5 separate regions of the Homo sapiens genome follow, and regions 1, 2, 3 and 4 are each linked to region 5. Evidence: fine-mapped expression QTL. A gene starts in region 5. Each other region holds a variant in brackets. All regions are shown on one strand. Distances are between the middles of the regions.

What was found. PIP is the estimated chance that this variant, and not a neighbour inherited with it, causes the effect.
Region 1: its variant is fine-mapped to the expression of GNL3L in whole blood (TOPMed, PIP above 0.99).
Region 2: its variant is fine-mapped to the expression of GNL3L in whole blood (TOPMed, PIP above 0.99).
Region 3: its variant is fine-mapped to the expression of GNL3L in lung (TOPMed, PIP above 0.99). The same link has a PIP of 0.9 or more in blood mononuclear cells.
Region 4: its variant is fine-mapped to the expression of GNL3L in whole blood (TOPMed, PIP above 0.99).

What each region holds. Positions count from the first base shown.
Region 1 is chrX:54,461,695-54,466,798 of GRCh38, reverse strand. It overlaps FGD1 (FYVE, RhoGEF and PH domain containing 1), which reads left to right. Exons shown (of 18, transcript NM_004463.3): 7 at 947-1,103; 8 at 1,210-1,348. Among named protein-coding and RNA genes, the nearest start is that of TSR2, 24 kb to the right of the region's middle. The variant G/C (reference allele first, on the strand shown) is at 2,753.
Region 2 is chrX:54,587,685-54,592,788 of GRCh38, reverse strand. It overlaps a transcript of GNL3L not described here. Among named protein-coding and RNA genes, the nearest start is that of GNL3L, 60 kb to the right of the region's middle. The variant C/T (reference allele first, on the strand shown) is at 2,986.
Region 3 is chrX:54,430,807-54,435,910 of GRCh38, reverse strand. No RefSeq gene overlaps it. Among named protein-coding and RNA genes, the nearest start is that of TSR2, 7.0 kb to the left of the region's middle. The variant G/A (reference allele first, on the strand shown) is at 2,237.
Region 4 is chrX:54,614,622-54,619,725 of GRCh38, reverse strand. It overlaps a transcript of GNL3L not described here. Among named protein-coding and RNA genes, the nearest start is that of GNL3L, 87 kb to the right of the region's middle. The variant T/C (reference allele first, on the strand shown) is at 2,487.
Region 5 is chrX:54,527,737-54,532,840 of GRCh38, reverse strand. GNL3L (G protein nucleolar 3 like) reads right to left here and starts at 2,622. Exons shown (of 16, transcript NM_001184819.2): 1 at 2,422-2,622; 2 at 256-321. The coding sequence starts at 274. RefSeq lists enhancers at 2,217-2,476, 2,487-2,546, 2,997-3,046, 2,701-3,221.

The DNA of each region.
Region 1 (5,104 bases), 66 kb after region 5:
CAGCCTGGGCAACAGAGCAAGACTCTCTCAAAAAAAAAAAAAACAAACAAACAAAACAGTACCAGATATATACAGTAAGTGCTCAATGGATGTAAGCTTTTGTTATTTTTACAGTGCTATGATAGAGCAGAGAATGGGAGGCTGTGGGAATCCAGACAAATGGACCAAGCCTAGCTTGGAGATTACAGAAGGATTCAGGGAGAAGGTGATGCCTAAGCTGAGTCCTGAGGTAGAAGGGCAAGGTTTACAGGCAGCCTCTCAGGCCTTCTTCCAATCCAGCCTTTAGAGTCCACACCATTTGCCAGAACGGTCTCTCTAAACAAGTCAGACCATGTCTCTCCCTGCTTAAAATCATGTCCACATTCCCCATACCTACAGATTCTCCACACCTACAGAGTCAAGTGTGTCCCCCTCACCAGACTGTGACCACAGAAAGCCAGCATGAAGCCTGGTTCCTATATCTCCCCACGAGTCTGTGAACCCTGAGGGCTGGGACCAGGTCTGGTTTGCTTTGCTCCTGCACCAGACTGACCAATGAGGAGTACAACCAGGCCTGGTCTCTTTGTCTCACCTACCAGATGGTGACCCTCTCAGGGCTCAAATGGGTGTGACTCATTTCTGTGTCCCCAGCATCACCCAGCACACAGTTGATAATCAGTATATGAAGTGGTCCTGGCAGTAAGGTCTCAGGGTGAGTACTTCAACCAGTACTCGGGCAGGGCAGAATTGAGGCAGGTGGCATCCCAGGCTGTGGTCTGAAGTCAAGCCGAGCCTCTTGGCCTCACTGGCCTGTAATGTAAGCAGCATTTCTGAAGGAGCAGACTAGCTGAGAAGTAGGTTTCTAGGACTGAGATGAAAGGTATCTGCCTGGGGCTGGAAACTTGTGGGGGAAGTTTCTGAGGGGCAAAGAGCAGCAGGACCACATCAGCCCCTAATTCCACCCCAGGGACCGCTATCCACGCATTGGAGACATCCTGCAGAAACTGGCCCCCTTCCTCAAGATGTATGGTGAGTATGTGAAGAACTTTGACCGGGCCGTGGAGCTGGTCAACACCTGGACAGAGCGCTCCACCCAGTTTAAAGTCATCATCCATGAGGTGCAGGTAAGTGGTCAAGCTGGAAGGAGCAGACTTGGGGAGGAGAGGTCTGCAGGGATGTGGTGGGGCATCTGCAGCCAGATCTGAGCCCCTCTGCTTCTGCCTGTCACAGAAGGAGGAAGCCTGTGGCAACCTGACATTGCAGCACCACATGCTGGAGCCTGTGCAGCGCATCCCCCGCTATGAGCTTCTTCTCAAGGACTATCTGTTAAAGCTGCCCCATGGCTCCCCGGACAGCAAGGATGCCCAAAGTGAGTGTGTGCACCCAGGCCCCTTCCTACTTCTCCACACTAATAGCTCTAGGCCAGACCTCTGAGGCAGGACCCCAAGACTTAATTCACAGGGTCGGCCTTCCATTGCCACATGATTGAAATCCCAGAGGAGAATCTCCAAACTGAAAGGCCCACATTGAGGTTCTGAAGTGAGACCCCAGGATGAGATCCTCCTTCTGAATGTTCTCTTTGGGTATTCAGGCAGGGACCTCTAAGTTGAGACCCCTGCCTGAATACCTGTAGAGAACATTCAGAAGGAGATCCCCAACCTGAACTTCCCAACTGGAACCCCAGAGTTTGAGTGGCATGCCCATTATGATCCCCTAAAGGAACTCATCCATTTCCTAGATCGAGACCCCAAGGCTGACCCCTAGACTCACCCCCAAATGAAGTTGTACCAAATGAGAAAGGAAACTGAGCCTGAAACCTCAGGGACTGAGCCACCAAGCTGAGAGGCCAGACTGACCCCTCAGGCCAAGCCCACATCACAGAATCTCCACAGCTGAGCTCCCCAGAAAGAGCCCTGGCTCATCAATTTTCCATCCTCCAGATTTAGAGCTTTCCTCCATGTCCGCCAGCCACTACCCAGAATGAACCTCCCAAAAGAACCTCCAAATTGAGCACCCTAGACTGGACCCCAAATTTTCCACCTCTCAAATTTGGATCTCTAGGCTGAGATACCTCCTCCCCAGACTGAATCCTTACACATTGAACCACTAGAAAAGTCTTCTATCCCGATTCCTCCAGTATCAACCTGAACCCCACACCCCAGATAGAGCTCCCCCCGCCTACCCCACTTTCTCTTCCCCAGATTTTCATTCATTCATTCATTCATTAGTTTAACAGCTACTTACTGAGCACCTCCATGTTTTTGTGCATTGTTCTAGGTACTGGGGATATAGAGGTGAACAAAACAGACAAGGTCCTTGATCTCAGGGAGCATATATTCTAGTCAGCAATGAGACACAGTAAACAAAAATAATAAACACACAGTAGAGGCCGGGCGCAGTGGCTCACGCCTGTAATCCCAGCACTTTGGGAGGCCAGGCCGGGGGATCGCCTGAGGTCAGGAGTTTGAGACTAGCCTGGCCAACATGGTGAAACCCCGTCTCTACTAAAAATACAAACATTAGCTGGGCGTGGTGGCGGGCACCTGTAATCCCAGCTACTTGGGAGGCTGAGGCAGGAGAATTGCTTGAACCCAGGAGGTGGAGGTTTGCAGTGAGCCAAGATTGCATCACTACACTTCAGCCTGGGCAACAGAGCGAGACTCCTTCTCAAAAAAAAAAAAAAAAAAAAAAAGAGCTGGGCGTGGTGGTGGGTGCCTGTAATTCCAGCTACTCGGGATGCCAGGGCAGGAGAATCACTCGAACTCGGGAGGCA[G/C]AGGTTGCATTGAGCTGTGATTGAGCCACTGCACTCCAGCCTGGGTGACAGAGCGAGACTCCATCTCAAGAATAAATAAATAAGTAAATAAATACACAGTAGAATATTAGATAGGTGCTGAGTATAATTCAGAGAATTAGAAGAGGGTGGCATGACAGTGGCTGGAGAGCCTACTTGAGATTGGGTGGCCTGTCTGACTAGAAGACAGTGAGTCAAAACCTGAATAAAAAGAAGGTAGGCACATGCCTGTTGGGGTTGAGCATGTTCCAGGCAGAGGCCACAGCAAGTATAGGGTCCAAGGCAAGGGGAGATATTAGGGGAGGTGGGGTGCTGGACAGGTTGCATATCTCTGGATCAGGAAGAAGGTCAGTGTGACCTGAACATGACAAATAAGAGTAGAATGGTAGAAATGAGGTTGGAGAGAGGAGCAAAGACTGAAGGCCAAGATAAGGAGATGGATTTTATTCTGAGTATGGTGGGTAGCCATGGGAAGGTTTCGATCATGATTACTTGGGGAGCAAGAGAGAGAGAGCTGAGAGATCAGTTAGAAGCCTTTTGCAATAATCCAAGTGAGAAAAGTTGGCTTGGATGAGGACAGTAGCAGTAGAATCGGTGAGAAATGGTTGGATTCAGGATACATTCTTTTCAGAAGCAGCACTGAGAGGACTAGGGTGGAGTGGATGCTGGGCTTGGGAGCAAGAGTCAGGAATGACTTAAAGGTTTTTGGCTGGTGGTGATGGTTCCTGAGATGATCTTAGGAGTCTGACTTTGGACATGTTCAAAGTGAGCTGCTAGTCAGGCAGTTAGATGAATCTAGAATTTCAGGGAGAGATTTGGATGTCATTGGCACATAGATAGTATTCCAAAGCCATAAGGCTGGCCAAGATCACCAAAGGGAGTGAGTGTAAAAGGAGGGGAAAGGGGGCCAAGGACAAAGCTCAGGGATGTGGAATCACCAAAGGAGACTTAGAAGGAGCAGCCCTAGGCTGGGCGCGGTGACTCACACCTGTAATCCCAGCACTTTTGGAGGCTGAGGCAGGTGGATCACAAAGTCAGGAGTTCGAGACCAGCCTGGCCAACATGGTGAAACCCTGTCTGTACTGAAAATACAAAAATTAGCCAGGTATGATGGTGCACGCCTGTAATTCCAGCTAGTCAGGAGGCTGAGGCAGTAGAACCACTTGAACCCGGGAGGCAGAAGTTGCAGTGAGCCGAGGTGGCGCCACTGCACTCCAGCCTGGGTGACAGAGCAAGACCCCATCTCAAAAAAAAAAAAAAAAAGAAGGAGCAGCCCTAAAGGTAGGAAGAAAACCAAGAAAGTGTGGGGTCCTAAAAGCCATAAGAATGGGGTTCGAGGCCGGGCGTGGTGGCTCACGCCTATAATCCTAGCAATTTGGGAGGCTGAGGCGGGCAGATCACCTGAGGTCTGGAGTTTGAGACCAGCCTGGCCAAGATGATGAAACCCCATCTCTACTAAAAATACAAAAATTAGCCAGGCGTGGTGGCCGTGCCTGTAATCCCAGCTACCCTGGAGGCTGAGGCAGGAGAATCGCTGGAACCCGGGAGGCAGAGGCTGCAGTGAGCCAAGATCGTGCCACTGCACTCCAACCTGAGCCACGGAGTGAGACTCCATCTCAAAAAAAAAAAAAAAAAAAAAGAATGGGAAGTGGACAGCTGTGTCCACTGCTGTGTCCGCTTCCCAAACTGAGCCTTCTCCACCCTGCCAGATGGGGCACTTTGCTACCAAGCCTGGACCCCTAGAAAGAACTAGGCCTCTAGAAAGTTTAATAGCTAAGCTCTACAAGCAGACATCTGCAGCATAAGTAAGTACCTCATTCCTCCTGCTGAAAAAGAGCCCTCACTGAGGTGCCAGCCTAAACTTCTAGAAAGGGCCTTCCAGACTGATTGTCTGGGATGGGCCCTATGGACTGACATCTCCAAACTGAACCTTCATACTAAGCCCATTCTGAGGTCCCAGTTATAGATCCCAACACTGGTTTCTCAAACTAAGATCCCCAGACTGGGCCTCTTCCCACCTGGAATACTCTTCCCACACTGAGCCCTGAGAGTGGGTTCCCAGTGAGAGCCTTCAGCTTGAGGTCCCCAAAAGAGCTTCCCAGTCTGATCTCCTTGGCCACCATTCTATAGACAAGTATTGCCAAACTGAGCACCCTAGATTAATTCTCCTATTTCATATCCCTCAGACTGAAACTTTCAGCCTGAACTTAAAAGACTGACTCTCCAGGTCCATCCTACAGACTGAAGCCCCACTGAGCCCCAAGACTGGATTCTCTGAGTTCCCCAGAGGGAACCCTGAAATTCAGCAGCCCAGACTGAGCTCCAGACAGAGAT
Region 2 (5,104 bases), 60 kb before region 5:
GCCTGGAGTGGTGTGGCATGATCACGAATCATCACAGCCTCAACCTCCTGGGCTCAGGTGATCCTCCCACCTGAACCTCCCAAGTAGTTGGGACTACAGGCACCTGCCACATGCCTGGCTAATTTTTGTACTTTTTGTAGAGACAGGGTTTTGCCATGTGGCCCAGGCTGGTTTCCAACTTCTGGGCTCAAGCGATCCACCTGCCTCAGCCTCCCAAAGTGCTAGGATTACAGGCATGAGCCACTGCGCCCAGGCAAAATTCAACATCTTTTCATGATAAAAACTCTACAAAATTGGGTATAGAAGGAACATACCTCAACATAATAAAAGCCATATACAAAAGACCCACAGCTAGTATCATACTGAATGGGGAAAAACTGAAAGCCTTTCCTGCGAGATCTGGAACACAGCAAGCATACCCACTTGCATCACTGTTATTCAACATAATACTGGAAGTCTTAGCTAGGGCAATCAAACAAGAGAAAGAAATAAAGGGCATTGTAATTGGAAAGGAAGACATCAAATTATTCTTCATTGTAGGAGATATGGTTTTATAGTTGGAAAAACCTAAAGACTCCACAAGAAAACTCTATTAGAACTGGTAAATTCAGAAAAGTAGCAGGTTTCGAAATCAACATACAAAAATCAGTAGCATTTCTATATGACAACAGTGAACAATGTGAAAAAGAAATGAAAAAAAGTAATCCCATCTACAATAGCCACAAATAAAATTAAATACCTAGGAATTAACCAAAGAAGTGAAAGATATCTATAATGGAAACTATAAAACACTGTTAAAAGAAATTGAAGAGGACACCAAAAATTGAAAAATATTCCATGTTCATGAATTGGAAGATTCAGTTTTATTAAAATGTCCATATAACCCTAAGCAATCTACAGATTCAATGCAATCTCTATCAGAATACCAATGACATTCTTCACAGAAATAGAAAAAAAAATCCTTAAATTTATATGGAACCACAGAAGACACAGAATAGCCAATGTTATCCTTAGCAAAATAAACACAAAATTGAAGGAATCCCATTACCTGACTTCAAATTATACTACAGAGCTTTAGTAACCAAAACAGCATGGTACTAGCATAAAAACACACACATAGACCAAAGGAACAGAGTAGAGAACTCAGAAACAAATCTACACACCTACAGTGAACTCAATTTTTTTTTTTTTTTTTTGAGACAAAGTCTCGCTCTGTCACCCAGGCTGGAGTGCAGTGGTGTGATCTGGGCTCACTGCAACCTCCACCTCCCGGGTCCAAGCGATTCTCCTGCCTTAGCCTCCTGAGTAGCTAGGACTACAGGCGCCTGCCACCACACCCAGCTAATTTTTGTATTTTTAGTAGAGATGGGGTTTTGTCATGTTGGCCAAGCTGGTCTCGAACCCCTGACCTCAAGTGATCTGCCAGCCTTGGGCTCCCAAAGCACTGGGATTACAGGAGCGAGCCACTGCGCCCCGCCTAAGTGAACTCATTTTTTACAAAGGTGCCAAAAACATACACTGGGGGGAAGACAGTCTCTTCAATAAATGGTGCTGGGAAAACTGGATATCCATATGAAGAAGAATGAAACTGGGCCCCAATCTCTCACCATATACAAAAAACAAATCAAAATGCATTAAATTCTAAATCTAAGACCTCAGGCTGGGGACGGTGGCTCACGCCTGTAATTCCAGCACTTTGTGGGGCAGAGGCAGGTGGATTACCTGAGGTCAGGAGTTCAAGACCAGCCTGGCTAACATGGCAAAACCCCATCTCTACTAAAAATACAAAAATCTGCCAGCTGTGGTGGTGTGCATCTGTAGTCCCAGTTACTCAGGAGGCTGAGGCAGGAGAATCGCTTGAACCCAGAAGGCAGAGGTTGCAGCGAGCCGAAATCGTGCCACTGCACTCCAGCCTGGGCGACAGAGCAAGGCTCTGACTGACTGACTGAATGAATGAATGAATGAATGAATAAATAAATAAATAAATAAATAAATCTAAGACCTAAATAAATAAATAAATAAATACATAAATCTAAGACCTCAAACTATGAAACTACTACAATAAAACACTGGGGAAAATCTCAAGCACATTGGTCTGGTAAAAATTTTCTTGAATAATACCCAATAAGTACAGGCAACCAAAGCAAAAATAGGATCACATCAAGTTAAAAAGCTTCTGTACAGCAAGGGAAATGATCAACAAAGTGAAGAGACAATTCACAGAATGGGAGAAAATTATTTGTAAATTACCCATCTGACAAGAGATTAAATAATCACAATATATAAAGAGTTCAAACAACTCTTTCATCAATGGAACCCACCACGTCAACAGACTAAACAAGAAAAATCATATAATCATATCAATTGATGCAGGAAAAAAACTAAAAATTTGATCAAAATTGGGCAAAATATTTGAATAGACATTTCTCAAAAGAAGACATATACATGGCAAACAAGTATATGAAAAGATGCTCAACATCATTCATCATCAGAGAAATACAAATCAAAACTACAATGAGATATCATCTCACCCTATTTAAAATGGCTTGTGGGCTAGGCGCGGTGGCTCACGCCTATAATCCCAGCACTTTGGGAGGCCGAGGCGGGCGGATCACAAAGTCAGGAGTTCAAGACCAGCCTGACCAACCTGGTGAAACTCCGTCTCTACTAAAAATACAAAAATTAGCTGGGCATGGTGGCACGTGCCTGTAATCCCAGCTACTCGGGAGGCTGAGGCAGGAGAATCGCTTGAACCTGGGAGGCAGAGGTTGCAGTGAGCCGAGGTCACACCACTACACTCCAGCCTGGGCGACAGAGCAAGACTCTGTCTCAAAAAATAATAATTAATAAAAAAAAAAAATGGCTTGTAACCAAAAGACAGGCAATAACAAATGCTGGCAAAGATGTGGAGAAAAGGGAACCCTTGCACACTGTTGATGGGAATGTAAATTAGTACAACCACTATGGAGAACACTTTGGAAGTTC[C/T]TCAAAAAACTAAAAATAGAGCCAACATATGATCCAGCAATCCTACTGCTGGGTATGTACACAAAAGAAAGGAAATCAGTATAAGGAAGAGATATCTGCACTCCTATGTTTGTTGGAGCACTGTGTACAATAGCTAAGACTTGGAAGCAACCTAAGTATCTATACAGATGAATGGATAAAGAAAATGTGGTACACATACAAAATGGAGTACTATTCAGTCATAAAAAGAATGAGATCCAGTCATTTGCAACAACATGGCTGGAACTAGAGATCATTATGTTAAGTGTAATAAGCCAGGCACAAAAACATAAACATCACATGTTCTCACTTATATGCAGGATCTAAATATCAAAACAATTGAACTCATCGACATAGAGAGTAGGATGGTTACCAGAGGCCGGGAAGGGTAATGGGGGATTGGGAGGGGAAGTAGGGATGGTTAATGGGACAAAAAAAAATAAGACTATTTTTCCATCTGTTTATAGGGTGACTATAGTCAATGATAGTTAGACTATTTTTTCCATCTAACTATTTATAGGGTGAATATAGTCAATAATAGACTATTTTTCCGTCTATTTATAGGGTGACTATAGTCAATAATAACTTAATTGTACATTTTAAAGAGTGTAATTGGATTGTTTGTAACTCAAAGGATAAATGTTTGAGGGGATGAATACCTCATTCTCCATGATGTGTTCATTTCACATTGCATGCCTGTATCAAAACATCTCATGTATTCCATAAACATATATACCTATGTACGCACAAAAATTTTTTAAATTAAAAAAAGAAAAAATCAGTATCAAAAAATAACAAGAATATCTTCAAACACTTGGAAACTAAACAACCCATTTTGAAAATGATACATGGGTCAAAGAGGAAGTATTTCAAAAGGATATCAAAAAAATTGAATTGAATAAAAAATAAAATAAAGCATAATAAAATTTGAGGAATAAAGTTAAAGCATTGCCGATATGGCTGGTTCCACTTTTTTTTATTTTTTATTTTTTTTGAGCCGTAGCGCGATCTTGGCTCGCCGCAACCTCCACCTTCCGGGTTCAAATGATTCTCCTGCCTCAGCCTCCTAAGTAGCTAGGATTATAGGCGTGTGCCACCACGCCTGGCTAGTTTTTGTATTTTTAGTAGAGACAGGGTTTCACCACATTGGCCAGGCTGGTCTCGAACTCCTGACCTCAAGTGATCCACCCGCCTCAGCCTCCCAAAGTGCTGAGATTACAGGCGTGAGCCACCACACCCGGCCTGGTTCCATATTTGTAATCCATCAGTGGAATCTACCATGTCAACAGACTAAAGTGAAAGAAAAACCATATAATCATATCAAGTGATGCAGAAAAGCACTTGATAAAATTGAATACCTATGAATGAGAATTTTTAAGCTCTCAGAAAAAATAGTAATAGATGGATATTTTCTTAATTTCACAAAGAGCATCTAAAAACGAACATACAACTAACATTACAAAAAATGGTAAAAGACTGAATGCTTTTCCCTAAGATATGGAACAAAGCAAAGATGTCTTCTCATACCACTTCTATTCAACATTGTACTGGAAGTTCTAGCTGTGCAATAGGCAAGAAAAAGAAATAAGAGACATACAGATTGAAAAGGAAGACATAAAGCTGTCCAAATTTGCAGAGGACATGATAATCTACATAGAAAATCCCAAAATAGCTACCAAAATATCTCCTAGTACACATTAGTGAGTTTAGCAAAATCACAGATTACAAGATAAACATACAGAACTCAATTATATTTCTATATAAAAGCAACGACCATGTGGAAACGGAAATTAAAAGTACAACCCTGGCCAGGCACAGTGGCTCACGCCTGTAATCTAGCACTTTGGGAGGCTGAGGCAGAAGGATCACCTGAGGTCAGGAGTTCGAGACCAGCCTGGCCAACATGGTGAAACCCCATCTCTGCTAAAAATACAAAAATTAACTGGACATGATGGTAGGTGCCTATAATCCCAGCTACTCGGGAGGGTGAGGCAGGAGAATCGCTTGAACCCGAGAGGCAGAGGTTGCAGTGAGCTGAGATCGTGCCACTGCACTCCAGCCTGGGTGACAGGGTGAGACTCCGTCTAAAAAGAAAAAAGAA
Region 3 (5,104 bases), 97 kb after region 5:
ATTTCACAACTCATTATTAGTAATGTACATTTTAAGATTTTTGTCAAACTTGGGAAAATTTCTAGTTTCTTTTACATGTGAGCTGTAAGATTTCAGGTTATTTTAACTTCTCTTGGCACAGCGACAAATCTTAAACATTCTTCAAATAGACCAGGCTCAATAACCAGAGACCTGGAAGTGGCCTGTGCAAGTGTGGGGCCCTGATGCTTAAGATTGATTTGTTCTACGATAAATCTATCTCTGTGCAATGCCCAGGGAGAAAGGAGCACAGGGACTCATGGGAGTTCAGCAGAGGGTCCCTGACCCAGCCCTGGGGGCTGTGGCAGGCCTCTCGGAGGAGATGACACGTGAGCTGATTCTTAAAGTTTGAGTAGAATTTTGCTGGGTGATGGGGGAGTGTGTGTGTATGGGGGTGGAAGGTGTTACTGAAAGGAGGAAAGAGCCTTCTGTGCAGGGGAAAAATGTGTGCAAATACACAGAGGCAGGAAGCAACATGGTGTGTGATGATAATAAGAGCAGTTCCAGACTGAGAGAGAACCTCAGGGGCATAGCCTCCTCCGTAGCTCCAGAGACTCATTTTTTGTAGAGTCAGCAATGTAGATTGAGTTCAGAGAGGCCCAAATGAAGATATTGAAAACCTCAGTTGAAGTTCCCACAATCTGAGGCCTCAAACATACACAGAGAGAATAGACCTGCTAGATATCCCCACACATGGAGTCCCTCTCTGGGATGTAACAAACCAAGGCCTCTGAATGAACCCTTAGCTTTGAGACTGAAGTCCAAGGCCGAGTATCCTAAGTACCAAACGTCTTCACCTTTTTTGTGACTTGAACCCCCATCGGCAATCTGGTAAAGTCAATATAGCTCTTCACAGAATGTTTTTATTTTATTTTAAAATTTCTGAGGCAGGATAATCGCTTGAACTCAGGAGGTGGAGGTTTCAGTGAGCCGAGATCGTGCCACTGCACTCCAGCCTGGGCGACAGAGCCAGATTCCATCTCAAAAAAAACAAAAAAACTTATTTTGCAGAGACCAGGTTCTCACTATGTTGCTCAGGCTGGTCTCAAACTCCCGGGCTCAAGTAATCTTCCCTCAGCCTCCGAAAGTGCTGGGAATACAGGCATGAGCCTAGCCCAGAATAATGTTTTTAAATGCATACAATAAAATATAGGTTTACAAAGGAAGTCAAGTATGTTAAAATACAGTTATCAAAATATTACAGAAACACCATTCCAAATTGTGTATTTGTTTGCCAATTTTAAAATTGCAATCAGGCCAGGTGCAGTGGCTCACGCCTGTAATCCCAGCACTTTGGGAGGCCAAGGCGGGCAATCACCTGAGGTCAGGAGTGCGAGACCAGCCTGACTAACATGCTGAAACCCCGTCTCTACTAAAAATACATAAATTAGCTGGGCATGATGGTGCACACCTGTAGTCCCAGCTACTCTACTCAGGAGGCTGAAGCAAGGGAATTTCTTGAACCGGAGGCAGAGGTTGCAGTGAACCGACATGGCACCACTGCACTCCAGCTTGGGCAACAGAGTGAGAATCCATAAAAATTAAAAAAAAAAGGAAGGAAGGGAGGGCGGGAGGGAAGAAAGACACAGACACCCCAAAATTCTATGCATGATGCTTTATAAGTCCATGTATCCCAAACTCAACTCCCAGTATGACACCCTAGACTGAGCTCCAAGATTAAAATGCAGGTTGAACCACCACATTGAATGTGCAGAGGATGCTTCCAGATAGAAAATTTCAGCCGGGCACGGTGGCTCACGCCTGTAATCCCAACACTTTGGGAGGCCAAAGTGGGTAAATCACAGGGTCAGGAGTTCAAGACCAGCCTGGCCAACATAGTGAAACCCTGTCTCTACTAAAAATACAAAAATTAGCCGGGCGTGGTGGCACGTGCCTGTAGTTCCAGCTACTCGGGAGGCTGAGGCAGGAGAATTGCTTGAACCCGGGAGGTGGAGGTTGCAGTAAGCCGAGATCACGCCACTGCACTCCAGCTTGGGCAACAGAGTGAGACTGTCTCAAAAAAAAAAAAAAAAAAAAAAGAAAGAAAAGAAAATTTCAGATTAGGACCAAGCCTGGCATCCCAAGACAGAGCCCACCAGACAGACATCCCTGGGTGAGGCCATCACATCCGTATCTCCTAGGCTTGACCTCAGGCTAAAATCTCCAGACTGGGCTTCCAATACCTGAGCAGACTGAGCTCTGAAACTGGCACTCACTC[G/A]GTGAGAGGCTTAGTCATATGTCAGAGAAAATATCAGGCTCCCATATCAAATCCTCTCCCAACTGAAACACTAGAATTAGTGTCTCAAGAGTGAACCATCTGGGCAGATTCCTTGAGTCCAGGAGTTTGAGACCAGCCTGGGCAACATGGCAAAACCCTGTCTCTGAAAAAAATACAAAAATTAGCAGGACTTGGTGGGACATGCCTGCGGTCTCCAAGCTACCCTGGAGGCTGAGGTTGGAGGATCAGCTTGGGCCCAGGAGGCGGGGGTTGCAATGAGCAGAGATGGCAGCAGTGCACTCCAGCATGGGTGACAGAGCCAGATCCCTGTCTCAAAAAAAAAAAAGAGTGAACCATCAACATGTAAACCCTTAACCTTAAAGTCATGTCCCCATAATGCCCATAATGAGCCTCTAGGTAGAGCCACGGGACTGAGTCCCCAAACTTAGCTCCTTGAAGGAGTATGGGGACTGGGACTGATATCCTGCAAATGGGCCCAGGGTGAGTTCCCAGAAGGACCCATCACATACTAAAGCCACAAACTCATCCCCCCTGCTGAAAGTGTAGACTGAGCCCATGTTCTGAAACAGCTTCCCTCAGACTGAAAACCTAATATCTGAACCTGGAAATAACATGCCCAAGGCCGGGCATGGTGGCTCACGCCTGTAATTGGAGCACTTTGCGAGGCTGAGGCGGGCAGATCACTTGAGGTCAGGAGTTCGAGACCAGCCTGGCCAACATGGTGAAACCCCATCTCTACTAAAAATACAAAATTTAGCCAGGCATGGTGGTGGGCACCTGTAGTCCCAGCTACTTGGGAGGCTGAGGCAGGAGAATTGCTTGAACCCGGGAGTCAGAGGTTGCAGTGAGTTGAGGTCGCGCCACTGCACTCCAGCCTGGGCGACACAGCGAGACTCTGTCTTAAAAAAAAAAAAAAAAGTGAAAAAATTAGCTGAACGTGGTGGCACTTGCCTGTAGTCCCAGCTACCCGGGAGGCTGAGGCAGGAGAATCACTTGAACCTGGGAGGCAGAGGTTGCAGTGAGCCGAGATTGTGCCACTGCACTCCAGCCTGGGTGACAGAGCGAGACTCCATCTCAAAAAAAAAAAAGCCCAAAATGAGCCCTAGAGGGAATCCCCAGAGGGAACCACCGGTATGCACCTATGGTAGCCATGAGACTTCATCTCACAGACCGTAAGCTACAGGGGATGAATTTAATCAAGGGCCCCAGCTGCTGTTCTGAAATCCACCCTTGTATTTGCGCAGACATTGCTTGCCATCAGCTGAGTGCCAAAAACTACCAATAACTGAGTGCAGCAGGGATACTTTGGCAAATTTGGCTCAAAGAATCCTGGATAATTGCTTGAGCCCAAGAGTTCAAAACCAGCCTGGGCAACATGGTGGGACCCTGTCTATAGAAAATCAAAAAATTAGCTGGGTATGGTGTGCACTCCTATAGTCCCAGCTACACTTGGGAGGCTGAGGTGGGAGGAGTGCTTGAGTCAGGGAGTTCGAGGCTGCAGTGAGTCGTGATCTTGCCACTGCACTCCAGCCTGGGCAACAGAGTGAGACCCTATCTGAAAAAAAAAAATTTAATGGAAGAAAGGAGCAGTTTCTTAGGACTGCTTTTTTTTTTTTTTTTTTTTTTTTTGAGACAGAGTCTCACTCTGTTGCCAGGCTGGAGTGCAGTGGCATAATCCGGGCTCACTGCAACCTCCACCTCCCGGATTCAAGTGGTTCTCCTGCCTCAGCCTACTAAGTAGCTGAGATTACAGGCACGTGCCACCTCACCCGGCAAATTTTTGTATTTTTAGTAGAGACAGGGTTTCACCATATTGGCCAGGATGGTCTCGATCTCTTGACCTTGTGATGCACCCTGCCTTGGCCTCCCAAAGTGCTGGGATTACAGGGTGTGAGCCACCGTGCCCGGTCAGGACTGCTTTTACATAAGAGAAATAAAAGGTTTGAGCCGGATTCGATGGCTCACACCTGTAATCCCAGCACTTTGGGAGGCCAAGGTGGGAGGATCACTTGAGCCCAGGAGTTTGAGACCAGCCTGGGCAACAGGGAGACCCTGTCTCTACCAAAAAAAAAAAAATTAAAAAAATAAGCAGATATGACTAATTTACCGGCATGGCACATGCTTGTAGTCCCAGCTACTCTGGAGGCTGAGGTGGGAGGATTGCTTGAGCCCGGGAGGTCTAGGCTGCAGTGAGCAATGATCAAAACAGAGTGAAACTCTGTGTCAAAAAAAGAAAAATAGAGGTTTCTATCTTGTTTAAGCCATCATTATTTGGTGTCTCTTTGTTACATGCAATCACATCTGATGCCAGCTGAGCCCTCTTGAGTGAGCCAATGCCTGAGCTCACTCAGAACTCACTCGGAACTCCCGGACTTCTCTCAGGAGAGTGAATGCCACTGGGTGCGGTGGCTCACGCCTGTAATCCCAGCACCTTGGGAGGCCGAGGCGTGTGGATCATTTGAGGTCAGAAGTTCAAGACCAGCCTGGCCAGCATGGTGAAACCCCGTCTCTACTAAAAATACAAAAAATTAGCCAGGCGTGGTAGTGTGCGCCTATAATCCCAGCTACTTGAGAGGCTGAGGCAGGAGAATCACTTGAACCTGGGAGGCGGGGGTTGCAGTGAGCCAAGATCATTCCACTGCACTCCAGCCTGGGCGACAGAGCAAGACTCCATCTCAAAACAAAACAAACCAAAACAAACAAAAAGTCTGAATGCCCATGCTGAGCACCCAACAGTGAGTGATCCAGACAGAGCTCCTGACTGACTAATACAATGAGATTGATCTCAGGTATACCAGTGCCTGAACCTCTGGACAGACTACCATAAAGCAGGTGGCCCAAACAGTT
Region 4 (5,104 bases), 87 kb before region 5:
ATCCCCATATCATATCTCTACCTCAGGAAACAAAACATCCTCAATCGAGGGTATAGAAGTATGTAAAACAGGCTGGGCACAGTGGCTCACATCCGTAATCCCAGCATTTTGGAAGGCCGAGGCAAGAGGATTGCTTGAGCCCAGGAGTTCAAGACCAGCCTGAGCAATACAGTGAGACCTTGTCTTTAAAAATTAAAAAAAAAAATTGCGCAAAACAGAATGTATAAGCCCCCATCCTCCCTACTCCTGTAACTCCTACTCCCGCAGTTAATGTTTGTACCTATATTTCCAAAAGTTTTTATATATATACAAAAAATAATTATTTACAGAAATGAGATTAATACACTATTGTGAAACTTTCTCTTTCTGCTTAATAAATTGTCATCATCTTTCCATGTCGTGTTAAACAGATACTTTATTATTTTTAAAAGCAGCTTAGTAATCTTTTATGTATATATTGTATATACCATTACTTATTTAATAATTTCATTGTTGATATTTCGATTATTTCCAATTCCTTATTGTGAACAATAATGTAATAAATGTCTTTGTATATATATATACTTGTGTATTTCTGTAGAATAAAATCTAAAAGTGCATCAAAGGGTATACATGCTTAATATTCTGATACATGCTGCCAAATTGCCTCCAAAAGGTTCTGCCAGTTTACACTCCCACCATCTGTGTATGAGTGTCCATTTCCCCTCACTAACCCTAGGTTTTAGCAAATCTGGCAAGTGAAGACTGGTATCATGGTGCTTTAATTTTTATTATAAGTGAGATTGAGCCCCTTCTTAGATATTTATTGCCCATTTGTGGGTTTTTTTTAAAAACAGGGTCTCACTCTGCCACCCAGGCTGGAGTGCAATGGCACAATCATAGCTCACTATGGACTTGAACTCCTGGACTCAAGAGATCCTCCTGACTCAGCCTCCCAAGTAGCTGGGATGATAGGTGTATGTCACCATGTTTGGCAATTTTTTTAAATTTTTTTGCAGAGATGGTGTCTCACTATGTTGCCCAGCCTGGTCTCCAACTCCTGGGCTCCAACTCCTCCTGCCTCAGCCTCTCAAAGCACTGGGATTACAGGTATGAGCCACCATGCCCAGCCCAGTCCATTTGTGTTTCTTCTGGGAATTGTCTATTTGTGTTCTTTATCCATTTTTCTATTGTGATCTAGTGCTTATTTTTGAGCATGGAAGTCATGTGATCAGAACTAGACTCCAAGAAGATCAATCTTACTGTAGGGAAAATGACTAGAGGCAAGATTACCACATCACCTAGAACATGGATCTGTTGAAAAGAGAGAATTCGTAAGACTTCGAAGGAAAGGGCTGACTCTAGGCTGATGCTCAAGTTTCTGTTTGGATAACTGAGCAGACAGAGGGGCTATTTGCTGACTTGGGAAAGCCAGGAGGAGGAGCAAGTTTAGAAGGACTAGGGGGATGAAGATGATAAGCAGAGTTTAATATATGTTGAGTTTCAGATACTTGCAAGACTGCCGGGGCAGATAATCAGGAGGCCTTCAAATATAAATGTCTAGAGCTCAAGAGGGAGGAATGAGCAAAAGGGAAAGATCTAGGAGCCATCAGCATACAGATGATAACTGAAGCCAGCTCCTATATGTGGCCTCTCCAGCATGGGAAAGCCAGGGGAATAAATGAGATTTTTTTTAACTGAGAGCTAAATTTTTTTAAAGTACTCAAATTTAGAGAATAGGAAGGAAAAGAATATATAAAAGAGACTGAGAAAGGCCCATGAAGAAGACTGAAAGAGACCCATTGGAATAGTGGGAGAATCAGTGTCTTAGTCTGTTTGGGCTGCTACAACAAAATACCATAAACTGGATAGCTTATAAATAACAGAAACGTATTTCTTACAGGTCCGAAGGTGTAGAAGTCCAAGATCCAACTGCTGACAATTTCAGTGTCTGGTGAGGGCTCATTCCCCATAGATGGTGATTTCTAGCTGTGTTCTCACACAGTGGAAGGGGCAAACAAGATCCTTCAGGCCTCTTTCATAAAGGTACTAATCCCATTTATGAGGTCTCCTCATTATTTAATCACCTCCCAAAGGCTATACCTCTTAATTCCATCACCTTGGAGGTTAGGTTTCAACATATGAATTTGCGGGAAGGGAGTACACATTCAGACCCCAGCAACCAGAGAAGTTTCTGAAAGCCAGAGTAAGTTTCTAGCGGGGGGAAAATTGTCAACAGAGATAAATGTGGTGACAAATTAAGGAGAGAGAAAACACAGCTAAAAGCCACTGAATTTAACAAGTAAGAGATAGTTGGTTGATGGTGGTAGATGCAATTATAGTAGAGGGCAGAGGGAAAAGCCAAATCACAGTGGGTTGATGAGTGGGTAAAAGGTGAGGAAACGTAAGTGTGAACAACTCATTCAAGAAATTGTTTTGTGTGAAGGAGAAGGCTTATGGGGAAGTAGCCAAAGGGATGTGGGTTTCCTTTTTCCAATGGAAAAATA[T/C]TGAACATCCTCCAATGCTAATAGAAGGTAAGTTGAAACTTCTGAAAAGAAAGGGATAATTGGTGAAGTAGCTAAAGAAACAGAAGAGGATGGGATCCAGGCACAAGCACAGAAGTTTTCTCTTTCCCCAGATTCTTGGCACATGGACTTGAAATCTAAAGAACAGCCTCCTTCTTGGTTAAGAATGACCTTTTCCTTTTCCCACACAAATAACAAGCCAGTTTAAGTAGTGGACCAGTTAGCCAGTTGCTTCCCACTACACAAAAGGAAACAATATCATGGGATTAAATCTATGCTAATTAACTCAGATTTCTATAAGAAACTTCTCAACTAACTGGTGAAGCAAAAATTGGTCCCATCCTCTCTACCAAAGTTAACTGACATGGAAATAAACACAATAGTAACAAACCCCTTACAAGCTCATACTATTTATGGAATATTTTTGCAATTGTGCACATTCATACCCCCCAGGCCCTGAGGCTAACACTATCCAGTTGACTTGGGGAGAAGGAGCCAGGGTCAGCAGTAGCCTTACTCTCAAAGCCTAAAACTGAAAAATGCACAGTGTAAGGCTGTCTACAACAAGTCATCCAGTTTATTATCAAAATAAAAATATTTTAATGTGCCTGTTAAGGAGTTGTTAGGTTCAGGGGGGGAAAAAACTAAAACGGGAACAAAAACTACTTAAAAGTAGAAATAATTTTGCCAAAAGACTTTTCAAATATATTTAAACAAGACTTCCTGTCTCTATCCATGGGCAGTTAGTTACTTTTCCCCTTAGTGAGTGTGAGTGACTAACACACTCCAATTACAAGAAATGGAAAAACCATGAAATGAAAGGCAATTCCAAATAAGTTAAAATATTATGCTAAGTTTGGTGCATATAATATGTTCCTTATTTTGAACATCCAGAAAGGTATGCAATTTTTATTAAAAAAAAATTGGTTTTTCCTTTCTCCTGCCAAATAAATGCTGAACAAATATTTAAAGAATATCAGTTTGAAGAAGAACCCTTTCTGTAGCCTGCTTGTGGCGCCCATATGGCGGGCACTGCCCTTGCCAGGCCTTCTCACTGTGCCCAGAGAACACTGAACCTCTTATTCACCACCTCTTGCCTATCCAGCCATATCATTCAATGAGTTCCTCCAGCTCTGTGCTAGATACCACAAGAGAGACAAACTGAAACCATGATAATATTAAAATCACAGGAGAGTTGATTAGTTTCAAAGTGATGACATCCGTGAAACAGCTAACAGACTGCCTGGCACATAACAAATGCTTACTGGAAATATTTTACTTTTTCAGTTACATTTCCCAGGTTTCAGAAAAGCTGTTGACACAGGCTTCTCCTGGGATTCAGAAGTACTGGCTTCTGGGAGTGGTGGTGGGCGCCTGTAATCCCAGCTACTCGGGAGGCTGAGGCAGGAGAATCGCTTGAACCCGGGAGGCAGAGATTGCAGTGAGCTGAGATCACGCCACAGCACTCCAGCCTGGGCAACAGAGTGAGACTCTGTCTTAGGGAAAAAAAAAAAAAAGCAAGTACTGGCTTCTGGGAAAATTCCCTTCATCTGTTTTCGAAGGTAAAGAAAATGCACAGACTAGATGAAAAGCAGAGGTGGAAATACTTAGTAGAGATAAAGGGGAAGACTTCGTCTCCAGTTAACTCCATTAACATCTCCAGCCTTTTATTGGGTTTTTAAAAATTTTTTATTGTAAAGTATACATATAAGGTGCTGTGAAAAACAGTTTGACAGTTACTCTAAAAGTTAAACATGGAGTTGCCATATGACCCAGCAATTCCACTCCTAGGTATTTACCCAAAAGAAATGAAAACTAGTACGCAAATACATGTACCTGTATGTTCATAGCAACACTATTCACAATAGCTAAAAGGTGGAAAGAGCCCAAATGTCCATCAACATATGAATGGAGAAACAAATTGTGGTATTTACTTACAATGAAATATTATTCAGCCATGAAAAGGAATGAAAAACTGATACATGCTACAACATGGATGAGCCACAAAATCATTATGCTAAGTGAAAGAAGCTAAACACAAAAGGTCACATATTTAATGATTCTATTTAATATGAGGTATTCAGAACAGATAAATGCATAGAAAAAGAATGTAGATTGGTAGTTTCCAGATGCTGTGGAAGTGAGAAATGGGAATTGATTTCTTGATGGTAATAGGGTTTTCTTTTGGGGTGATGAGAATGTTGTGAAACTAGATAGATGGAGTAGTCGCACAGTAATGCCACTGAAGAGGACACTTTAAACTAGTTTCAGGTGTTTGGCAATCATGGCGGACGGAGGGCAAGATTAGATTGCAGCTCTGGACAGAGCAGTTGGTGGAAGCTCACGTTGTAAATTTCAGCTCCAGATCAACTGCAAGAATCCCAAGCAATCCCAAGAGGACCCAAAGACCCTCTGAAGGAAGCAGACTGCACCTGCAGGACCCAGGAGACGCCCCAAATACTGTGAGCGCCCGAACAGCGGAAATGGGAAAGGGAGACCCTCCTCTCCTGAACACACACTCCCATTGGAGAAGCTGAAGTTCTGTTTGCAGGACAAGTTTCTGACTTTACCTGGAGTTGAGTCAATTTAGAGAGCCGAGC
Region 5 (5,104 bases):
CTAAAAATACAAAAAGTAGCCTGGCATGGTGGCACACACCTATAATCCCAGCTACTCGGTAGGCTGAGGCAGGAAATGCTTGAAACCGGGAGGCGGAGGTTGCAGTGAACTGAGATTGCACCACTGCACTCCAGCCTAGGTGACAGAGCGAGACTCCATCTCAAAACAAAAACCAAAAAAACAAAAAGTTGCTGTGAAATTCTATGAATATTCATTAAAAGCACAGGATTGGGAGGGGTGGTAAAGGAAACTCACTGTGTCTAAGTTTCATCATGATGACCAGCTTGAAAGCAGATAGGTTCAAATCTGCTTGCTCTCTTCCTGTCAGAATGGGAGAAGAAGCAATTTGAAGACAGCTGGGAATCACAATGCCACAAGCCCCCTCCTAAGTCCCCTAAAGGTAAAATGTTAAAGAACATTATGAGGAAGGCGTAATAATTAGGAAAACTGGGAGAAGCTGGAGCTAAAGCCTCATATGGCTGAGTCCACACAGAGAAGGCAGTGTCATACTACCCAAAGGGAGGAATAGGTCTCAACCTCATCCGGGGTGGAGTCAGTGGCTCAAAGCCACTGGGCTTTGAGCCCAGTGGGGTCAAATGGGGTCAGATGGGGTCTTTGGTCCTTATTCCTCCACACTGTAGTGTTATATTCTAGGTAGGGGACTAGTGCTCAACACCTCCACACTGAGGGGAAAGGGACATGCAAGGATGGTCTATTTCTATATGGGGTGATAATAGTGCCTCTTTTCCCAAGTAGGGGATTCTATATCTCATCTACCCTGGGAGAGGTGGTGGGGAAGGGCGTAAATAGATCTCAGGAGTCTACCCTGGGGAAAAGGGGCCTGAGAACAGGGATTCTTACCTGAGTGTCTATATGGATTGAGATAAGTACAAAATCTTGGAGGAGGGGGTAAAAATCTGTGCCTGCATATGCCTGGGGTCTATACCTTGGTGATTTGGGTTGGGGGGATTGCCATCTGTCCCTCTACTCTGGGGTGCAGAGAAACTGGGGAAACCCACAAAGTGGCTGTGTGCATCTCTGCTGCATGGGGAAAGAATCACAGATCTGTTTATCTCTAGATTGTGGGGATGGGTCCTGCGTCTCTTCACCCTGGAGAGGGCTGTGGTACAGGATCGATATGCCTGATTCCACAACTATGCAGCTTTGAATAAGCGGGTCTGCACCTTACCTGCAGTGAGCTATTCTGGACCCTTCTATGGAAGGTGGACTGTGACAACTTTCATCTTTTATGCTGGTTGAAGTCAGCGGCACACTAACACTGAAAGAAATAGGGGCTCTGGTTCTCTGCATGGGTGGTGTGTGGAGGGGGCTGGCAATGCAGCTATAAATTAATAGATCAGCCCTAATACTTGGGGGTGGGGGCGTCTGTGATTCTACCCTGGGTGGAGAGAAACAGATCTGAGCTCCACTACCTTGGGTAAAGGGGAGAGACCATACGCACTGAACTGCCAGGTAATCAGCGATGTCACTCCCTCTCAACATTACAGGGAGGGAGACCTGCATATCTGCTCCTGTGGGGTATCTCCCTTGCTACATTTAGTGATTCTAAATCTTTGGGGGAGGTAGGGGGAGGTAGGGGGATGATCTGTGTCTACCTCAAAGGGAGAGGAACACATCTGAGCCCCTCTACCCCCACGGCCCCTCAAGGGGCAGACCTGACTGTCTCTTCATGGATTAAGGTCTGTTCCTGTTTGCTTCGAAGCATGTTGGGTGCTTCGAAAAATTACACATTCGGTAAAACGGGGGCTACGGAAGTAGGGATCAGGTCTGATTCTCCACAATGGGGACTCACTCTAACCTAAGAGGAGGGGGCAATTGGCTTAGTTGTCCATAAGCTGAGGCCTGTAACTGCAACCACTTTGGGGACGGGTGAGTTGGGGAGCGATACTGAGGGCTCTGAGTCTACGCGTATGGGGAGGAGGTGCCCTCCCTCTGTATATTAAATGTTTCTAAGCTCCTCTATGCTGGTATGGGGGCAGATACATCAAAGCCTCTGTCTGTCCTGAGGAGGTGCCTCGAGACGGCTGTCTAGAGCCAAGCCAAGGAAGTGCCTTAAGTCGGGAGAAGTCTGCGCTGCTCAGCTGGGTGGAGGGAGATGTCTCTACACGGTTGGGGTGGATGTCCCCCATGCCTTTGGTGGGTCGACTCCTGTCTATACAAGGTGAATGCAGAATGAAGCCTCACTATCTTGAGGACGATCAACGCTTCACCACACAAGTGAAGTTTGTGCCTCTCTACACAGTGTGTCCCGGGTCTACACCTTTCTAGGTGGGATGGGGCAATGCCCCTCTCCCGGCAAACTCCACTCCGCGAAAAGGCAATTCGGCGCGTCTCCACGTGTGCCGCGATCCCTGCCCCTCTTCCGGTCCCTTCTACCCTGGAAGGGATCCTGCTGTTTACCTCTCTATTCCAGGTTGGCGGGCATCTCTGGTTTCACATCCAATAGACGATCCTAACTGCCCGGCCGTCTAGGTGAGCGCACATTGTGAGAAAAGAGGAGAGAAGTTTCTTACTTACACTTCCGGCGGGGATCTGAGAAGCGAGGGCAACACGACAACTCGGTTGAGCGAGCAGAAACTCTCGCGCAGCTAGGCTCCGACTTCCGGATCCCAGGCCGGCGGCGCCCGACTCCGCCCACCGTGCGGTCTCCGCGGGGGGGGGGGGGGGGGGGCGGAGCTTCTGACTGACAGCTCACGCCCGCCCGTCCCTTCTTCGCGACCACGCTGGCCCCGCCTCCTGCCTGCCCCGTAGTTAAGGAAATAGCGGAGGAGGGAGAAGGAGGACGGGGAAATGACCGGGAAGAAGCGGCGGGTCGACTGGTGCGGCCATATACCTTACTTGCAAGCCAAAATTTTGTCTGCGGGCATCTGTCTGGGGTTAAATATGCGTGCTCCCAAATCTCAATAACCAGGCAGTCACCACGCCCGAATCAGACAAGGGTGGGGGATGGTGTCTTTGTCTGCCTGGAAGATGGCGACAGCAGGGTGTGAGAAAATGGCCGCCTGGGTCACGTGTCTGGCCGAGTATTTCCCCACCTGAAGTGAATTGGTTAGCTATTCCCAACCACCTTCCCGGGTCCTTGAGCCCCAGACCATCCCTGAGCACTCCTAGCTTTTTCTGCATACGTTCAGATCTATGGCCATACCCAACCCGAGCTGGAGCAGGAGCCAGAACGACTAGAAGCCTCTCCCACACTAGAAGCCTCTCCCACCCTTTTGCCTTCTTCCCCTCCTACTCCATCCTTCCCTCAATCCCGGAGCAGCGTCTGCAGAAGGGAATGAATTTATATCTCTGGAGTGGGGCAAGTAGGGGTTTCTGAAGCCATCTCAAGGAGCTGGCTGGGAAGTGAGGTCTCCCCCACAAAATAGTAAATATTAGTCTGCAAATGTTTTCTTCTTGATGGTTTAATTCCAGCCCCTCCTCTTCCTCAAGCCTAAACCCTGGGGTGGGGCACAGAGTAGGTGGAACTCTGTGCCTCCGAGGGTGGGTTTGTTTCTCCACTTCAAGCACAGACGGGCTGAAAATGACTCCATCTGTCCCTTTATCCCTTACATAAACAGGACTCACTACCTCTCTACATCGTTGGAGGGCTTCTAACCTCTCATCCTAGAGACACATGAAATTCCTCTGGACCTGAAACCAGCCCTGACCACTTTCACCTTTCCCCCTGCATTTGCAATTTTGCTCTGTTTCTCTAAGACCTAACTCTTGTCACTTCGATGAAACCTTCTCTGACTTTCGCAGATGAGTTAGAAACCCAGAGCACCTTACCTATACAGCTAAGCTAGCACTTATCACAATACTGTAGTTGTTTATGTGACTGTGTCTCCACAGGAGGGTGAACTCCCTGAGAGCAGGGGCCATGTATCTTCAAGCTTTCAACAACACCCAGCACAAGACTGGTATGAGGCAGGCTTCAACAACTGTTTGTTAAATGGGTGAGTTTACAGGCCTGCACCACAAAAAATGGGAAATGGGCTGTTTAGTAGATGGCATTGGGAAATTTGGCTCTCCATGAAAAGAAATATAAAACTGGATCTCTATTTATTCCACCTAAGAGGGTAGACTGTGAATGTGAAAGGTAAAACTATGAAGTTAATATATGCAGGAGAATATCTTTGTGACTTGTGACTGGGGAAGGACTTTTTAAACAAAATCCCAAATGCACAAGATATAAGGGAAAAAATACAATGAAATCTTGTGGAAACTAGTTATTACGACTTTGGAAAACAATTAGGAAGTATCCAGAATAGCTGAAGATGACCCTGGGACCCAGCAGTTCTAGTATTGGAGATGATTGATTAATAGGTAGATAGATAGATAGAGATCACCTCTAAACTTTAACTCCTAGAGAAATTCTTATACACTTGCTCAATGAGCATGTGGAAGAATGTTCATTGCAGAACTGTTTGTAATAGAGAAAAAAATGTGAACAGCCCAAAATTCCACCAACAGGAGAATGAATAAGTAAATTATGGTATAGCCATATGACAGAATACTATGCAGAATACTATAATGAAAAAGAATGAATCATGTTGCATGCATTGACCCAGCTAAATTTCAAAAACACAATACTGAGATAAAATACAAATTGCAGAGGACACATAAAGTATGAAACCATTTATATAAAGTTTTAAAATCTAGAAAACAGCAAACAATGTTGCTTATAGATTATATAGATATATAAACAATAATTTTTTTTTCAGACAAGATGTTGCTCTGTCGTCCAGGCTGCAGTGCAGTGGCTTGATTTCCTCTCCCTGCAGCCTCCACCTCCCTGACTCAAGCCATCCTCCCACCTCAGCCTCCCAAGTACCTGGACTACAGGCATGTACCACCACACCTGGCTAATTTTTGTATTTTTTGTAGAGACAGGGTTTCACCATGTTGCCCAGGCTAATCTTGAGTTCCTGAGCTCAAGTGATCCAACCACATCTTGGCCTCCCAAGGTGCTGGGATTCCAGGTGTGAGCCACCGCCCCCAGCCAACAATAATTTTTAAGGAGAAATACCAAATCCAGAATACTGATTACCTCTGGGGAAGAAAACAAAAGAACAGAATGAGAGAGAGATACACAGGGAAC